Linked DNA regions of Homo sapiens: region 2 is linked to region 1. A link means that fine-mapping ties the variant in region 1 to the expression of a gene that starts in the linked region. Tissue or cell type: whole blood. Region 1 holds a variant in brackets; the other region holds the start of a gene. All regions are shown on one strand. Distances are between the middles of the regions.

Region 1 (8,155 bases):
GATAGGGTCTTGCTCTGTCACCCAGGCTGGAGTGTAGTGGTGTGATAATAGATCACTGCAGCCTCAAACTCCTGGGCTCAAGCAATCCTCCTGCCTTAGCCTCCCAAAGTGCTGGGATTACAGGTGTGAGCCGCCATGCCCAGCCTCTTATTTTTTTTAATTTGTTTATTTATTTTTTGAGATAGAGGCTTATTCTGTCACCCAGGCTGGAGCGTAGTGGCATGATCTCGGCTCATTGTAATCTCTGCCTCCCAGGTTCAAGCAATTCTCGTGCCTCAGCCTCGCAAGAAGCTGGGATTACAGGCACGCACCACCACATCCAGCTATTTTGTATTTTTAGTAGAGAAGGGGTTTCACCATGTTGGCCAGGCTGGTCTCCAACTCCTGGCATCAAGTGACCTACCTGCCTTGGCCTCCCAAAGTACTGAGATTACAGGCATGAGCCACTGTGCCTGGCCTAAACTTATTATTAATATTATTTTTATAAAAGGTTTTACTCTGTTGCCCAGGCTGGAGTGCAGTGGTGCAATTATAGCTCACTGCAGCCTCTAACTCCTGGGCTCAAGCGATCTTCTAACTTCAGCTTCCCAAGTAGCTGGGACTACAGAAGCCCACCCTCACACTCAGCTACTTTTAATATTTTTCATAGAGTCAGAGTCTCACTATGTCACCCAGGCTGGTCTTGAACCCCTGGCCTCAAGCGATCCTCCTGCTTTGGCCTCCCAAAGTGTTGGGATTACAAGTATGAGCCACTGCACTTGGCCTGGGTGGCCAAAAGATGTCCTACAGCCTGACCAGGTTGGTTCTTCCCTGTCCAACCTCTACATGGCCATTTCCAGACACTGGGCAACAAACACACCAAGAGGCTGGGTGCGGTGGCTCATGCCTGTAATCCCAGCATTTTGGGAGGCCAAGGCAGGCAGATTTCTTGAGGTCAGGAGTTCAAGATCAGCTTGGCCAACATGGCAAAACCCCATCTCTACTAAGAATTAAAAAGAAAATTAGCTGGGCATGGTGGCATGCACCTATAATCTCAGCTATTCAGGAAGCTGAGGTGGGAGAATCACTTGAGCCCAGGAGGTGGAGGTTGCGCTAAGGCGAGATCACACAACTGCACTCCAGCCTGGGTGACAGATAGAGACTCTGTCAAAGAAAGAAAGAAAAAGAGGAGAGGGAGAGGGAGAGGGGGAGAGAGAGACAGAGAGACAGACAGAGAGAGACAGAGAGAGACAGAGAGAGAGAGACCAAGAAAACACTCTTGAGAATGTGACTTTATCAGTCTCTTGGGTCCACACCTCGTGGCCAGCTCCTGTGGATTGCAGGACAGGGCCCCTGACCCTGAACCCAGGTCCTCACTGTAACCTCAAAATTTCTTGGCGCTAGCTGAGTCTCAAGCTCTGGAACCAGAGAGGGGTAGCCTAGAGAGTCCAGGAAGGTCCAGTTGAGGCTCAGTTCCAACTCTGTTAGTCAATAGTTTGTTTTTTGTTTGTTTTTATTTTAATTTTTTGAGACAGGGTCTCGCCCTATTGCCCAGGCTGGAGTGCAGTGGCATGATCATGGCTCACTGCAGCCTAGACCTCCCTTGGCTCAAGTGATCCTCCTACCTCAGCCTCCCTAGGATCTGGGATTTCGGGCTCACACCACCATGCCTGGCTAATTTTTTGTATTTCTGATAGAGATGGGGTTTTGCCATGTTGCCCAGGCTGATGTCGAACTACTGAGCTCAAGCAATCCACTCGCCTCGGCCTCTCAAAGTGCTTGGATTACAGGCGTGAGCTACTGCAGCCCAGCCTGTTGATCATTAGTGATGATCACCAAATATTTCCAATGCTCTCTCTTCTGGGCACATGGTAGGGCTGTTTTTTCCTGGCCACTTACAGTTGGGTAGGACCATGTGACTTTTTCTAGCCAATGAGCAGTGAGATAAAAGTATTGCATCATTTCTGGACCAGAGTATTTAATGATGGGTATGAGGCCTTCCAGAGATGTCTTTCCTCAGTCACAGTGACCCAAAACATTCCAGATAGTGACTACTTTTGTTTTAGAGACAGTCTCACTCTGTCGCCCAGGCTGGAGTGCAGTGGTGAAATCATAGCTCACTGCAGCCTCGAATTCTTGGGCTCAAGCGATTCTCCTGCTTCGACCTCGCAAATAGCCGAGACTACAGGTGCATGCCACTATGCTCAGCTGATTTTAAAAAGTTTTTTAGAGATGAGGTCTTGCTATGTTTCCCAGGCTGGTCTCAAACTCCTGGGCTCAAGCAATCCTCCTGCCTCAGCCTCCCAAGTAGCTGGGACTATAGGCATGAGCCACTGCACCCAGCTCAGAAATTACTTTTGTATTGTTTTTGCCCCCCAAGACTTTGGTGTTATTTGTTACAGCGGCATAACCTGACTTGTCCTGCCTGATCCATTACACCATCCACATCATGGCAGCTGAGTCTAGCCAAGGGCTTCTATGTTAATTTGCTAGGATTCACTGTCACAAAGTTCCACAGATGGGGTGACTTCAGCAACAAAAACGTATTGTCGGCTGGGTGAGGTGGCTCACGCCTGTAATCCCAGCACTCTGGGAGGCTGAGGCAGTTGGATTGCTTGAGCCCAGGTTCAAGACCAGCCTGGGCAATATGGCAAAACCTTGTCTCCATCAAAAATACAAAAATTAAGCCAGGTGTGGTGGCATGTGCCTGTGGTCCCAACTACCAGGGAGGATGAGGTGGGAGGATGGTTTAAGCCTGGGCGTGGTTGCAGTGAGCTGAGATGGCGCCACTGCACTCCAGGGTGGGCAACAGAGCCAGACCCTATCTCAAAATAAAACAAAACAAAATCAGAGAGAAAGAGAGAGAGTGGGAGTTATCTCAGGGATCTTTGCTTCGTCTTTGGAGCTTGATGTCATTCGACATTTACTGAGCACCTACCATGAGCCAGGTGCTGTTCTATGCAAGGTTCTTCCAGTGATGGAACTTATATTTAAGTGTGTCTTGCAGAGACAGATGAGAAACAAGTAAGCAAGTGAGGCCTGATGTGATGGCTCGTGCCTGTAATCCCAGCACTTTGGATGGCCAAGGCAGAAGGATCAATTGAACCCTGGAATTTGAGAACAGCCTGGACAACCTAGCGAGACCCTTGTCTCTACCAAAATTTTTTTTTAAAAATTATCCAGGTGTGGTGGTGCTTGCCTGTAGTCCCAGCTACTTGGCAGGCTGAGGTGGGAGCATCACTTGAGCCTGGGAGGTTGAAGCTGCAGTGAGCTATGACTTCACTACTGCACTCCAGCCTAGGCAACAGAGTGAGATCCTGTCTCTAAAAAAAAAAAAGTTAATTAAAAACTTTAGGCCGGGTGTGGTGGCTCACACCTGTAATCCCAGCACTTTGGGAGGCTGAGGCAGGCAGATTACCTGAGGTCAGGAGTTAGAGACCAGCCTGGCCAACATGGTGAAACCCCGTCTCTATTAAAAATACAAAAATTAGCCAGGTGTGGTGGCGGTTGCCTGTAATCTCAGCTACTTGGGAGGCTGAGGCAGGAGAATAGCTTGAACCCGGGAGGCAGAGGTTGCAGTGAGCCGAGATGACACCACTGCACTCCAGCCTGGGCAACAGAGTGAAACTCTGTCTCAAAAACAAACAAACAAACAAACAAAACAACAACACCAACAACACTTTATACCTGTAATCCCATCACTTTGGGAGGCCAAGACAGGTAGATCGCTTGAGCCCAGAAGTTTGAGACCAGCCTGGACAATATGGTGAGACCCCCATATCTACAAAAAAAAAAAAAAAAAAACTAGCTGCATGTGGTGACTCGCGCCTGTAGTCCCAGTTACTCGGGAGGTTGAGGTGGGAGGATCACTTGAGCTCAGGAGGTCAAAGCTGCAGTAAGCCGTGATCACATCACCGCACTCCAGCCTGGGTGACAGAGTGGGATCTTGTCTCAAAATAATAATAATAATAATAATAATAATAATAATAATAATAATAATAATAATAGTAATAATAAACAATGAAAACAATAAAAACAAGTGAAGCAACTGTGACTAATGAAGTGCTTTAAAGGCAAGGAGACAGGGGCCAACGGGAACAGGGAAGTTACTGTACACAGTCCGAAGAGGTGACAATTGAGGACAGGCTTAATCAGCTACACAGGGAGTAAAAAGCCCAATTCTGTGCTTTGAGCCAGGAATCGATGGAGAATTTGAGGAATAGAATGAAGGCTGGTACAACTGGAGCCTTGTGAGCCAGGATGGAAGGGGAGCCAGTTAAGATACAGACACCAGTAGGTGCCAAACTATGGACTGAACTTTCCCCTAAATGTCCCCCTCCACCCTCAAAACTCAGAGATCTGGAGGGCGCAGGGATATCGG[C/A]GGGGGTGGGGGGGCTTGGAGGGAAAGACACAGAGGGGGCGTCAGTAGCACCTCGGACAGCACCATCCCTGTCCATGGTGCTGACAGCTCGAGGCACTGACAGTCGGTGGGAATTTAAAATGGTGCAGCCGCTATGGAAAAGTTTGGCGTTTCTTCAATTCAACACAGAATCTCCATGTAACCCAACAATTCCACTCCCGGGCATCTAGCCAAGGAAGTTGAAAGCAGGGATCCAGATAGTTGTACACCTGTGTTCACAGCAGCATGACTCCCCATAGCCAAAAGGTGGAAGCAACTCAAGCGTCCAACAGATGAACCAATAAATACCATGTGGTCCATCTACACAATGGGATATTATTCACTCATAAAAAAGATAAACCGTTCTGGCCGGTCAAGGAGGCTCATGCCTGTAATCCCAACACTTTGGGAGGCCAAGGCGGGCAGATCACTTCAGGTCAGGAGTTTGAGACCAGCCTGGGCAACGTGATGAAATGCCGTCTCTACTAAAAATACAAAAATTAAGGCCAGGTGTGGTGGCACATGCCTGTATTCCCAGCACTTTGGAAGGCTGAGGCAGGTGGATGGCTTGAGGCCAGGAGTTTGAGACCAGACTGGCCAACATGGTGAAACCCCTTCTCTACAAAAAATACAAAAATTAGCCAGGCATGGTGGTGCTCGCCTGTGGCCCCAGCTACTTGGAAGGCTGAGGCATGAGAATCACTTGAATCCAAGAGCTGGAGGCTGCAATAAGCTGAGATCGCATCACTGCACTCCAGCCTAGGTGACAGAGAGAGACACTGTCTCAAAAATTAAAACAAAAAACAAAACAAAACCAAAAAACCCCCCCACAAAATTTAGCTGGGTGTGGTGGCGGGCGCCTGTAATCCCAGCTACTCAGGAGGCTGAGGCAGGAGAATCGCTTGAACCCGGGAGATGGAGGTCGCAGTGAGCAGAGATCATGCCACTGCACTCCAGCCTCCAGCCTGGGTGACAGAGTGAGACTCCATCTCAAAAAAAAAAACACAAAAAACAAAAAACACACAGAAAGAAATTGAGGGGTGCCATATCGGGCCCCCAAGAGCACCTGTGAGCCCGGGAGGGTGGCACGGAATGTCTGGCCCTGTGGTCCGGAGTCAGCACTGGCTTCTGAGGAGCCAGAGAAGGGGCAGAGTGGGGACAAGCACCTAGTGGGGCTCCGTGTGGATTCTAGAAAGGCATTCCCTGTGGGGGGCAAGCACCAGGTGGTGTCAGACCCCAGCCCCAGCCATCCTGAGCACAGAAGGTGGGTCCCCAGTCCGAAAACGACAGGAAGCCATTTCCAAGAGGCGAGTTTATTGGGGGAGGGGCTGGTCAAGTCATCAGTGCAACACTGCATCCCCGCTCAGGGCAGGTCAGTCCAGTGTGTGGGCCGCGGGGGTCACAGGCATAGCAGCAGGAGGGGGAGTGAGCTACCCCCACGGGGCCACCCCCAGCCCAGTCCAGGGGTGGGAGGGAGGGGGTGACCCCTGTCGAGGTCCTCAGGCATCTGTGGCTGAGCCGGGCGGCTCCTGGGGCAGACAGCGTCGTTGCCGGAGAATCGACTTCTCCTCCTCCTGCGAGGGAAGGTCACACACACGTCACCCAGCACGGGACACTGATGCGTCACATGTCAGCCAGCACCCAGCACACACAGGATCTCAAATACGCCCCCGGCTCCCCTGCCTGACACTGTACTCATGACCCTCTGGGGGATGTGAGGGGACCCTGGGCCACCCACTCTCACCATCTCGGAGGCAGTGCTGGGGCTTGCGCCCTCGGGGGACCCCCCTTCATCCCTCGAGCAGTCGGGTCCGGCGTCCTCCTCATACTCTGTCAGACAATCTGACTCCTCTCCTGGAATCGGGGAGCAGGGCACAGGTGAGGGGATTGGGGCTGGCCTGCCATCTCCAGCCACTCCCCTCCCTCTTGGGGGGTCCCCTGGGCCCCTCACCGTCAGCACAGCCATCAGAGACATAGCTCGTGGGGGGCTCAATCCGGGACACAATCTCTGCCAAGTCAGTGAAGCCAGAGCTTGGGAAGGCAAGCACCTGTGGGGTGACACTGGTGAGGCTCTTAGGGGGGGCCCACAGAGTCTTGGGGCCCCTGGGGGGCCCAGTGGTGCATTGGGGGCTCAGAGGAGATCCTAGGGTGGGAACTCTCTGAAGTCAGCAGAGGTCTGAGAGCTCAGCAAAACCCAGGGACATGTGGGGTCATCTGAGGTTTCGGGGAGACTTTAAGGGGGCTTGGGTTCTGTAATCAGTGGAGTCAGAGTGGCCCTGGGGGCATCACAGGCTTACGTCTGCACGGCGGCTCTCATTAAGGTCTGTAGACCGCCGGTCTGTGAGCATTTTCTCAATGACGTTGCCACGGCTCCAGCCTCCAAACACCGCCTTCCCGTACTGGTAGCCCACATCCTGTGGGAAATGAGGGGCTGGGTCCATGTCTGCAACCCTGCTTTGCTTGTCCCCACTCTGTCTGCCCATTCTCTGGCCCCTCAAAAGCCTGATTCTCTGGGGGAGTTGCATTTGAGACTAAACCTATTTCAGAGTCAGCTGCACATAGCACACTCGCCTACACATCCCCTGTCCTGCCCTTGACAGACATTACCAATCAATCTCTCCATGTTCTTTCCCACACAGCCCCATGCAGGGTGCTGGGTAGCAAATAACACAAGGTGGTGATGTGTGAGCTTATTTTGAAGTCTGCAAACAGGCAGTACATCTGTGGATGTCGCCATCCCCAAGCCCACAGCAAACATCTTGAATTTCTCATGGCATGCTATCCCAGTGAGCCCACAAGGGACATCACACATCTCTTCTCAGACTCAGGGCTTCTGGGCTGCAGCTACTGATCAATTTCTTTCTTTTTAAAAAAATTTTTATTATTTTTATCTTTAATTTTTAAAATTAATATTATTTTTTGAGACAGAGTCTCACTCTGTCACCCAGGCTGGAGTGCAGTGGCACAATCTTGGCTCACTGCAACCACTGCCTCCTAGGTTCAAGCGATTTCTCCTGCTGCAGCCTCTCAAGTAGCTGGGACTATAGGCATGTGCCACCACACCCAGCTAATTTTTGTATATTTAGTAGAGATGAGGTTTCACCATGTTGACCAGGCTGGTCTTGAACTCCTGACTTCAAGTGATCTGCCCACCTCGGCCTCCCAAAATGCTGGGATTAAATGCATGAGCCACCATGCCTGGCCCTTTCTTTTTCTTAGAGACAGAGTTTTGCTCTGTCACCCAGGCTGGAGTGCAGTGACGCAATCATAGCTCACTGCAGCTTCAAACTCCTGGGCTCGAGCGGTCCTCCCACCTCAGCCCCCTAAGTAGCTGGGGTGACAGGCATGCACAACCACACCCAGCTAATTTTTTATTTTTAATCTTTGTAGAGATGGGGTTTTGCTATGTTGCACAGGCTGGTCTTGAACTCCTGGTTTCAAGCAATCCTCCCACCTCAGCTTCCCAAGGTGCTGGGATTACAAGCATGAGCCACCATGCCTGGCCCCCTGATCAATTTCAATTGGCTTGGGCTATGGCACATTTTTCAGGGTCAGTAGCACATAACACACGCACTGCTACCTCCCTCTCCTGGAACTGTGGCAGACATTTCTGCTTCATCACTATTCTCATTCCCACCAATGCAGAAATGGCAGTAGAAATCACTATACAGTGCTTCCAGGGGTGCAGCTGGCCTATAAGGAGAAAGTTCTTACACAGCACATGCACAGCCACACCCCTACTACATCCCCTGCAGACATCACCAATTGATCACTGAT
Region 2 (8,000 bases), 74 kb before region 1:
GCTTCCCGCTGCCGCCACCTGCACCTCCTGGGAGCCGTCCCTGGTCCCTGAAGCCTGCTTTGCCGAATTGGAGGCAGGCCCAGGTCAACCCTAAACCCATGCCTGCAGGAGTCAGTGGATAAATACCCCAGCCCGTGTCCCTTAAGCTGGCTGGACAACCCCGCGGTGCGCTCTACGCTGCCCCCTGCAAGGGCCTAGTGGGATAGAACTCAAGGCAAGAGCTCCTTGGACTCTGTGGGTACCTCCCCTTTTTAAAATTTTACTTTATGTATGTTTTTGAGACAGGATCTCGCTCTGTCGCCCAGGCTGGAGGGCAGCAGTGCAATCATAGCTCACTGCAGCCTCGACCTCCCGGGCTCAAGCGACTCTCCCACCCCAGCCCCATGAGTAGCTAGGACTACAGGTGCACGCCACCACGCCAAGCTAATTTCTTTCTTTTTCTTTTTTTAAGAGACGGGGTCTTGCTCTGTACCCAGGCTGGTCTCAAACTCCTGGCCCCAAGTGATCCTCCTGCCCTGGCCTCCCACAGCGCTGGGATTACAGGTATGAGCCACTGCGCCCAGCCTCAGTGTCTGTTTCTGAGGGAACAGGGGACATTTGGTCACAAACCCCCACCCCCTGCCCAGGATGAGCCCGGGCCGTACCTGGGCCTCGTAGGGGAGGAAGGCAAGGTGAATCTCCTTCAACGTCTTCACCACCTTTGCCAGACGAGAGCGGCCTAGCTCACTGAACAGGGGCTCGGGGCAGGCTGGGGTGAGGCAGGAGTGGGGCATCAGGCCAGAGCAGCCCCCACACCTCCTTGCCCCACCCACCAACACCCTAGGCTCTCCTCACTCACTGTCGGTGAAGAAGATATGGGCCGCTTTGTAGGTGAAAGTCGGGGTCCCCTGGAAGTCTTTGATCAGGGCCTGAACCGACTGGGGAAGGTGGATCACTCTCTGGGCCTGAGCCTGCACACCTAGGCTCATTGGCTGCCTAGGCCTCCCAGCCACCCCCCATCTGCCACCATGTGCAAACATGGACGGACGGGGACATGTATATGTGCAAATGCACACTAGTGTCGCACCCACATGGGCACACGCGCACACACACAGATGCACGCACGCACACACACATACACACGCATGCACACATGCACACACACACAGATGCACACACACATACACACATGCACACACAGAGATGCACACACATACATACACACATGCACACACACAGATGCGCGCGCACACATACATACACACATATACACACATGCAGACACTGATGCGCACACACACGCATACACACATGCACAGACGCATACACACACGCATACACACGCACACACAGATGCACACACATACATAGACACATGCACACAGATGCACATACATATACACGCATACACACATGCACACACAGATACACACAGACGCACACACAGACGCAGACACATACATACACACGCATACACACATGCACACAGACAGACGCACACACACACATACAGATGCACACAGATGCACACACACATACATACACACGCATACACACATGCACAGACACAAATGCACACACAGACCCACAGACACACACGCATACACACATACACACAAATGCACACACAGACGCACACACATGCACATGCACACAGACACATACATAGACACACATGCAAACACGCACACACATGCATACACAGATGCACACACACATGCACACACATGCACACACATACACATGGACACATGCACACGTATACACATGCACACATGCAATCACATGCATGCAGACATACACACACATGCACATGTACACGCATGCACGCGCATACACACACGCTCACTCATGTAGGCACCTTCTCCGTGGGGCTCAGCAAATAAATGGCCTCCAGACTGGGAATGGGTTCCCGCCGTTTGTTGATGTCTTCAACAACTAGTAGGAACAGAGGAAGGGACACAGGTGGGTGGCATCCAGGCAGGGCCACGTGGGGAGTCTCAGGTGTGGGGGGTTGGAGGCTTGGGGAGGAGGGGTGGATGCTTAGGAGGGACTGCAGGAGAAACCCACTTAGGGACCACCAGCTAAGAGCCACACGACAGGGTTCTGCAGGGGTTGTGCAGCCAACTGGGTTCCCCAAATTTACAGACAGGGAGACTGAGGTTCTGAGAGGACAGGCTCCCTCAGCACCTATCCCTCAATGGCAAAGTGACTGGGACACCACCTGGGGTCACCCATAGAAGGCTCTGCATTCTTGGGACCCCACATCCAGAGTCCACCCTGGGAGTCCCACACAGGGCTCCACGAGGGAGCTGCACGGTCAGGAAGGGGCTGCAGCCAGGGAGTGCTGCAGGGGAGGCCTGCAATCCATGGGCTCCCGCAGTCAGCTTGCAAGGTTTAAGAATGGATTTGGTCACATGATCCGGGCTGTCCGTGCAGGGAGCTGCGTACTTGGGAGTTCTGGACGATTTGAGGGGATCCTACACTCAAGGGCTGAACCCTGGGAGAGGGGCACAGTCAGGGGTTCCCACGCTCAGGTCCCATCTCACTGGGGACGCGTTCACTCACTGGTGATGCCCTCAGCCAGGATATCTGACATTTTGCAGCAGGAAGACAAGATGCGCATGCTTGGGTGATCCATGATAAGCACCTGTCCAGATGGATGGACAGATGGATGGAGGAGCAGGCGGAAGAGGCCACAGCTGGCCCCAGAAGGGGCCAAGGCAGTGGGAGGGGCAGTTTCAAGGGCTGGCTGGGTGGGAGGACCCAGAACCCATTCACCCAACTCCACCCATGTGGACAGGCAGTTCTTGGGGGTCCCACATTCAGGGTCTTCCCCATAGGCCTGATGATGAGCTGCCTCTGGGTACCCAGCCATCTGCCTCACCCCTACCTTCCACTCCCCATCCTTCTTGACACTCCGAATAACTCCGCTCAGAATTTCTGCAGGGAAGGGAGGGGAGGGGTCAGAATGCTGGTTCTCTGGTCCCACCACTGCCCCAAGCCTTCTCAGCCTTGGGGCTGAACCCCCATCTTAATTCCCATTTACTTTTTTTTTTTTTTTAAGAGAGGAGGATCTCACTCTGTCACCTAGGCTAAAGTGCAGTGGTGTGATCATAACTCACTGCGGCCTCCAACTCCTGGGCTCCAGCGATCCTCTTGCCTCAGCCTCCCGAGTAGCTGGGACTACAGGTGCATGTACCACCCACAGCTAATTTATTTTTATTTCTGTATAGATGGGGTCTCGCTATGTTGCCCAAGCTGGTCTCAAACTTTTGGCCTCAAGCAGTCCTCCTGCCTCGGCCTCCCAAAGTGCTGGGATTACAGGTGTGAGACACGGCACAGGAATCATTTATTTTTAGCCCCCAGTTCTGCAAATTGGCTTCTGGGGTCACCCCCAATTTACAGACAGGGAAACAGATTCTTAGGCAACATGTAACTCACCTACGCATCCTGAGTGTCTAAGTGGCAGAGTGCTGGGGCAAAAGGTGCCACTCGATAAACATGTTTTAGGTGAATGAAAAGAGGAGAACCGGGATCATCTACAGCTCTATCTGCCTCTAGCGCCAGGCTCTCGGCTTCCCCACCTGCTACCTCAAGTATTCCTGCTGTGAGGGTTTCAGCCAGTCCCCCCAACCTGGTCTAAAATGTAGGACCCCTGGTTCCCAGCTCTGAGGCATGCCTAGCTGAGGCTATCCCACTGACCTCCGGTCTCAGTTTCCTCATCTGTAAAATGGAATCACTTTTTTCTAATCTCCCCCAATTAAAGGGGTTTGAGCTACAGACCGCCCTGCCTAGAGGAGAGAGTGGAGAGAAGTAACGGGGTGGCCCCGCCCAGCCACGTCCACTGTGTCATGTCCACTGTTATCAAGACGGCCAGGGCGGAAGGAGCAGCTGAGGCCGGAACTCCCCGGGGTGGAGGAAGAGGCGCCCTCCACCCTTCCCCCAAGAACCGGGGCCGGTGAGGCCTGGACGCCTGCGTCCTCCAGCTGCAAGGCGCTCCTGGAAATGGGGCAAGGAGGAAGACATCCCCTACACCACCCCTGTGGGGCCTGGACACGTCCCCTGAGCGCTCACAGCACCTAGGGTCGCTGACCAGAGCCCTAGGAGGCCCCAAGAATCCAGCCCCTGAACTTTGCCCGGCTTAAGAGATCCTAGAGTGTGGGCATCCAGCTGTGCCCTCCTCCCCCGGCAGGCACCCTAGGAGGCCCAGGAGTCCGGGCCCCAGCCTCCGCCACACTCTACCCGTCCCCTTTGGGTCCCCGGAGTCCGGCCCCCCAATTTTGTTCTGTTCTGGCACCGGAGAGCAGGGGCGTCCAGCTGGGAACCCGTCCCCGCCCGCCCCCTCGAGGGTCAGGTGCTCGGACGCCCAGCCCGGCCCCCAACTCCCAGCCGCCATGAAACCCAGGATCCCAGAGCCCGTGCGTCCCCGACCCCCGTCCCACACCGGACGCCAGAGCCCGGCCCCGGAGAGGCACTCACTTTCCCCCACCACCGCCTTCAGCCCCGAGGGCGCCATCTTCCCCGAGGGGCGCCGCCGCCGCTTCCGGGTGTGTCCCAAGGTGGGGGCGTGGCCCCGCGCGTCACCCACGTGGACCCCGCCCCGCGGGCCCTGTCCCCGCCCCCTGCGCACCTGGCCCCTCCCCGCCGTCGGTTCTCGCCCAGGCCCAGGAAGTTGAGTCCCTGGCGGGGAGGACGGGCAGGTGCGTCCGCGCTGCCGAGCACGAAGTCGCTGGAGGTGCACACCTCGACGACACGCTCACAGATGGGAGTTCAGACACACACTTCCTGGCTTGCGTGCGAAGCAGGATCGCAGGGCAATAATCCCTCCATCTTCCCCGGGAGGTTCTGTGCCTGCAAGATACACGGCACCCACTCGATGCCACCGGGCCGCCACTGTCTGGGCCTGGGATCTTGACCCACTTGCCTTCTGTACTTCAGGGTTTAGAGGCAGCAGCAGCAGCAGCAGCCGTCTTGGATAACTTTTGATGGATTCAGGAGGCCTGGAGACCTCTTGTGTGCAGGCACCTGGACATAATTTTCATTCAGTCCTGCCCAATGTTCCGACCTGGACTGCGGTGCCGACGAGGAAACCGAGGCTTAGCGGGATCCCTAATCCAAGGCCACGACGAGTGAGCCTGCTGGGTTCAAGCCAGGAGCCTGTCCCCAGGGGGCATTTGTCACAGCCTTACCCTCTTCCGGGAGGCGCAACGCTTACCCTCGTGGACCAACAATCGAATTAACATGCTGATACACACATGGGGTGAGTGACGCCCTCAAATGCTTGCAAACACAGACACACACTCGGAATTTCAGAAGCTGCTTCTGCTGTGTGTCCTGTCGCTTGGAAGGCACAGCCCCAGCAGCACCCATACAAAATGAGGTCTCCGATTTAAGGTGCGAGGTATGTGTGCAAACAGACTCTTGCTGGTCTGAGCTGGTTCCTTCGCTCGGCCGTGTTGATGAAGGTACCAAGCCCCCTGCCACTTACATGGGACATAGGGAGTGAATCAGACCCGAAGGTCTGGGGGAGATAGGAAAGGATCCATGCTGCCCTAAAGGAAATAAACTAATGTGACAACAAGTGCCACAGAAGGTAGGGGTGGGAGGGGACTTTACTGAGGATGACCCCCGAGGGCCTCTCTGAAGAAGCAGCCTTTTGACATTATCCCTAAATGGATTCTAGAAGCAGCCACACAGCATGTCCAGGTAGAGAAGGGAGGAGCCCCGAGCTTAAGAAGGCTGGAGGGTGGGGGCAGCAGGGGCCAGACTTCTGTAGGACAAGGTCAGACTGACCCATCCCAGTGCCAGGATGCAGGACTTTCAGTGCTAAAAATAGGACAGTCACAGGCAAACCAGGACGGTTGGCAACCGTAGGTAGGAGTTTGAGCTATTTCTTCCTTTCCTTTCCTTTTCCCTTCCTTTCTTCCTTCTTCTCCCTCCTCCCCATTTTTGTTTGTTTTTGTTTTGTAAAGAGACGGGTCTCGCTCTGTTGCTCAGGCTGGAGGGCAGTGGCACGATCATAGCTCACTGCAGCCTCGACTTCCTGAGCTCAAGGGATTCTTCCACTTCGGCCACCCAAGTAGCTGGGACTACAGGTGCACGCCACCGTGCCCGGTTGATTTTGTTGTTGTTGTTAAGAGACAGGATCTCCCTATGTTGCCCAGGCTGGTATCAAACTCCTGGGCTCAAGGGATCCTCCTGCCTTGGCCTCCCAAAGTGTTAGGATTTTAGGTATGAGCCACCGCACCCTGCCCCTTCCTCCTTTTGTAACAGCTTTACTGAGATATAATTCACATACCATACAACTCGCTGACCTAAGGTGCGTAAGTCAATGGCTTTCAGTATTTTTGGAGTTGTGTGTCCATTACCACAATCCATTTTAGAACATTTCCACAACCCCTAGGTGTTTGGGTTTTGTCTTCTCAAGAGTTTTGAGCAGGGGAAGGCGGGGAACCCTCCAGATCCTGGGGGGATGGAAGCCAGGACCGCCTCCAGCTTCTCAGCCTGACCCCTTGGGGGGACAGAGAGCTGTTAGGGCCAGCCACCCCACCACTAACCCCCAAAAGATATGAAGTACTAATCCCCAATACCCCACAATAGGATCTTATTTGAAATGGGGTTAGTATAGATATTAGCAGTGAGCATGAGGTCACACTGGAGTAGAGTAGGCCCCTAATGCAATATCACTGGTGTCCTTGTAAGATAGTTATATGTCTGCCTGGTTCTGTGTAGGTGGTTGGGGGGGTGGGGAAATGGGTATATGAAGACTGGGACACAGAGGGAGAATGCCATGTGACCACGGAGGCAGGGAGTGAAGAGCTGCAGTGACAAGCCAAGGACATCAAGGACGGCAGGCCACTGCCAAAAGCCAGGGAGGGGCAAGGAGGGCTCCTGAGACCTGGTTTTCAGAGGGAGCACAGCTCTGCCAACACCTTCATTTCAGGCTGTGGCCTCTGGAACGTTGGCTCAATAAATTTGTTAAAAAAAAATTTTAAAGGCTCAGCATGGTGGCTCATGCCTGTAATCCCAGCACTTTGGGAGGCCCAGGCAGGAGGATCACATGAACCCAGGAGTTTGAGACTAGCCTGGGCAAAATAGTGAGACCTCATCTCTATATAAAAATATATAACAAAAGTCAACTTATGTGTTTTAAGCCATCTGGTCTATGACACTTTGTTCTGGCAGGCCTAGGAAAGGGATACACGTACTGAGGAGGGGGACACTTCATTGGCATAGAGGGAGAGAGTGTGAACTTGGCCTTTTGTGGAACAGAGGAGGCTCGGGCAGAGGTGGTGATAGTGCAGCCCATTCATTCTGAGATGAAACTTCCACTGGTTTCCGTAAAGGCGTCTTGGGGAGGGAAGGGAAGGGGATGGGGACCTCCCAGTGGTATCCCCTGCTTGGGCACTGAGGGAAAGCCACAGTGGCTCGGGGGAAAAGGCAGGGACGTCCTCTCCCCGCCTGCCTCTGTCCCCAGGGAGTCTCGCCTCCTGTTCCCACCTGGGGCTAGGGTGATAGAGGAGAGGAGATAGCTCAACCTGGCATTTAGGTGGTGTGGGAACAGGAGACCCCAGACTTTCTTGTTTTGGGGTCTGGGGCAGGCAACCAGGCTCCAGGGACAGTGAGTTGAAGGAAGGGTGGCTGGGAGACCCCTTGACTTGCTGCCAAGGAGACAGAGCTGGAGCTAGGGTGGCCGGTGGTGTCTGAGGCAGGTGCAGAGAGGGAGGGAGGGAAGGGGCCTTTGACTCCAACCTCCTTTTTCTGTACCGACTGCAGGTGGCAGCTGCCCTTTCAGGAGCCAGTGGGGGAACCTGGGTGGCTGGGTGGGGACACCTGCAAGTCCTCCCTAAGCCAGCTACCACCCTACACTGTTGGCCTCCCTTCTCCAACTGTGGGGATGCTGCTCAGGCCTTTTGTGACATCACACCTGAGAGTCCCTGGGGTCCAGTCATTGCTGCTGGGCACAGCGAGGTCCAAGCTCAGGTCGCCCTGCCCCCTACCCACCATGCCAGATCCAG

Evidence for each region. PIP is the estimated chance that this variant, and not a neighbour inherited with it, causes the effect.
Region 2: STXBP2 starts here. The variant in region 1 is fine-mapped to the expression of STXBP2 in whole blood (TOPMed, PIP 0.91).

Annotation. Positions count from the first base shown.
Region 1 is chr19:7,559,285-7,567,439 of GRCh38, reverse strand. It overlaps PNPLA6 (patatin like domain 6, lysophospholipase), which reads right to left. Exons shown (of 32, transcript NM_001166114.2): 29 at 6,676-6,792; 30 at 6,330-6,426; 31 at 6,123-6,232; 32 at 5,676-5,952. The coding sequence ends at 5,878. Among named protein-coding and RNA genes, the nearest start is that of PNPLA6, 28 kb to the right of the region's middle. The variant C/A (reference allele first, on the strand shown) is at 4,361.
Region 2 is chr19:7,633,648-7,641,647 of GRCh38, reverse strand. It overlaps STXBP2 (syntaxin binding protein 2), which reads right to left and starts at 4,538. Exons shown (of 19, transcript NM_006949.4): 1 at 4,462-4,538; 2 at 2,873-2,922; 3 at 2,548-2,629; 4 at 1,841-1,917; 5 at 839-917; 6 at 645-748. The coding sequence starts at 4,498. PCP2 (Purkinje cell protein 2) reads left to right here and starts at 7,929. Exons shown (of 4, transcript NM_174895.3): 1 at 7,929-8,000. RefSeq lists enhancers at 3,409-3,935, 3,936-4,464, 4,465-4,992 and a silencer at 4,431-4,720.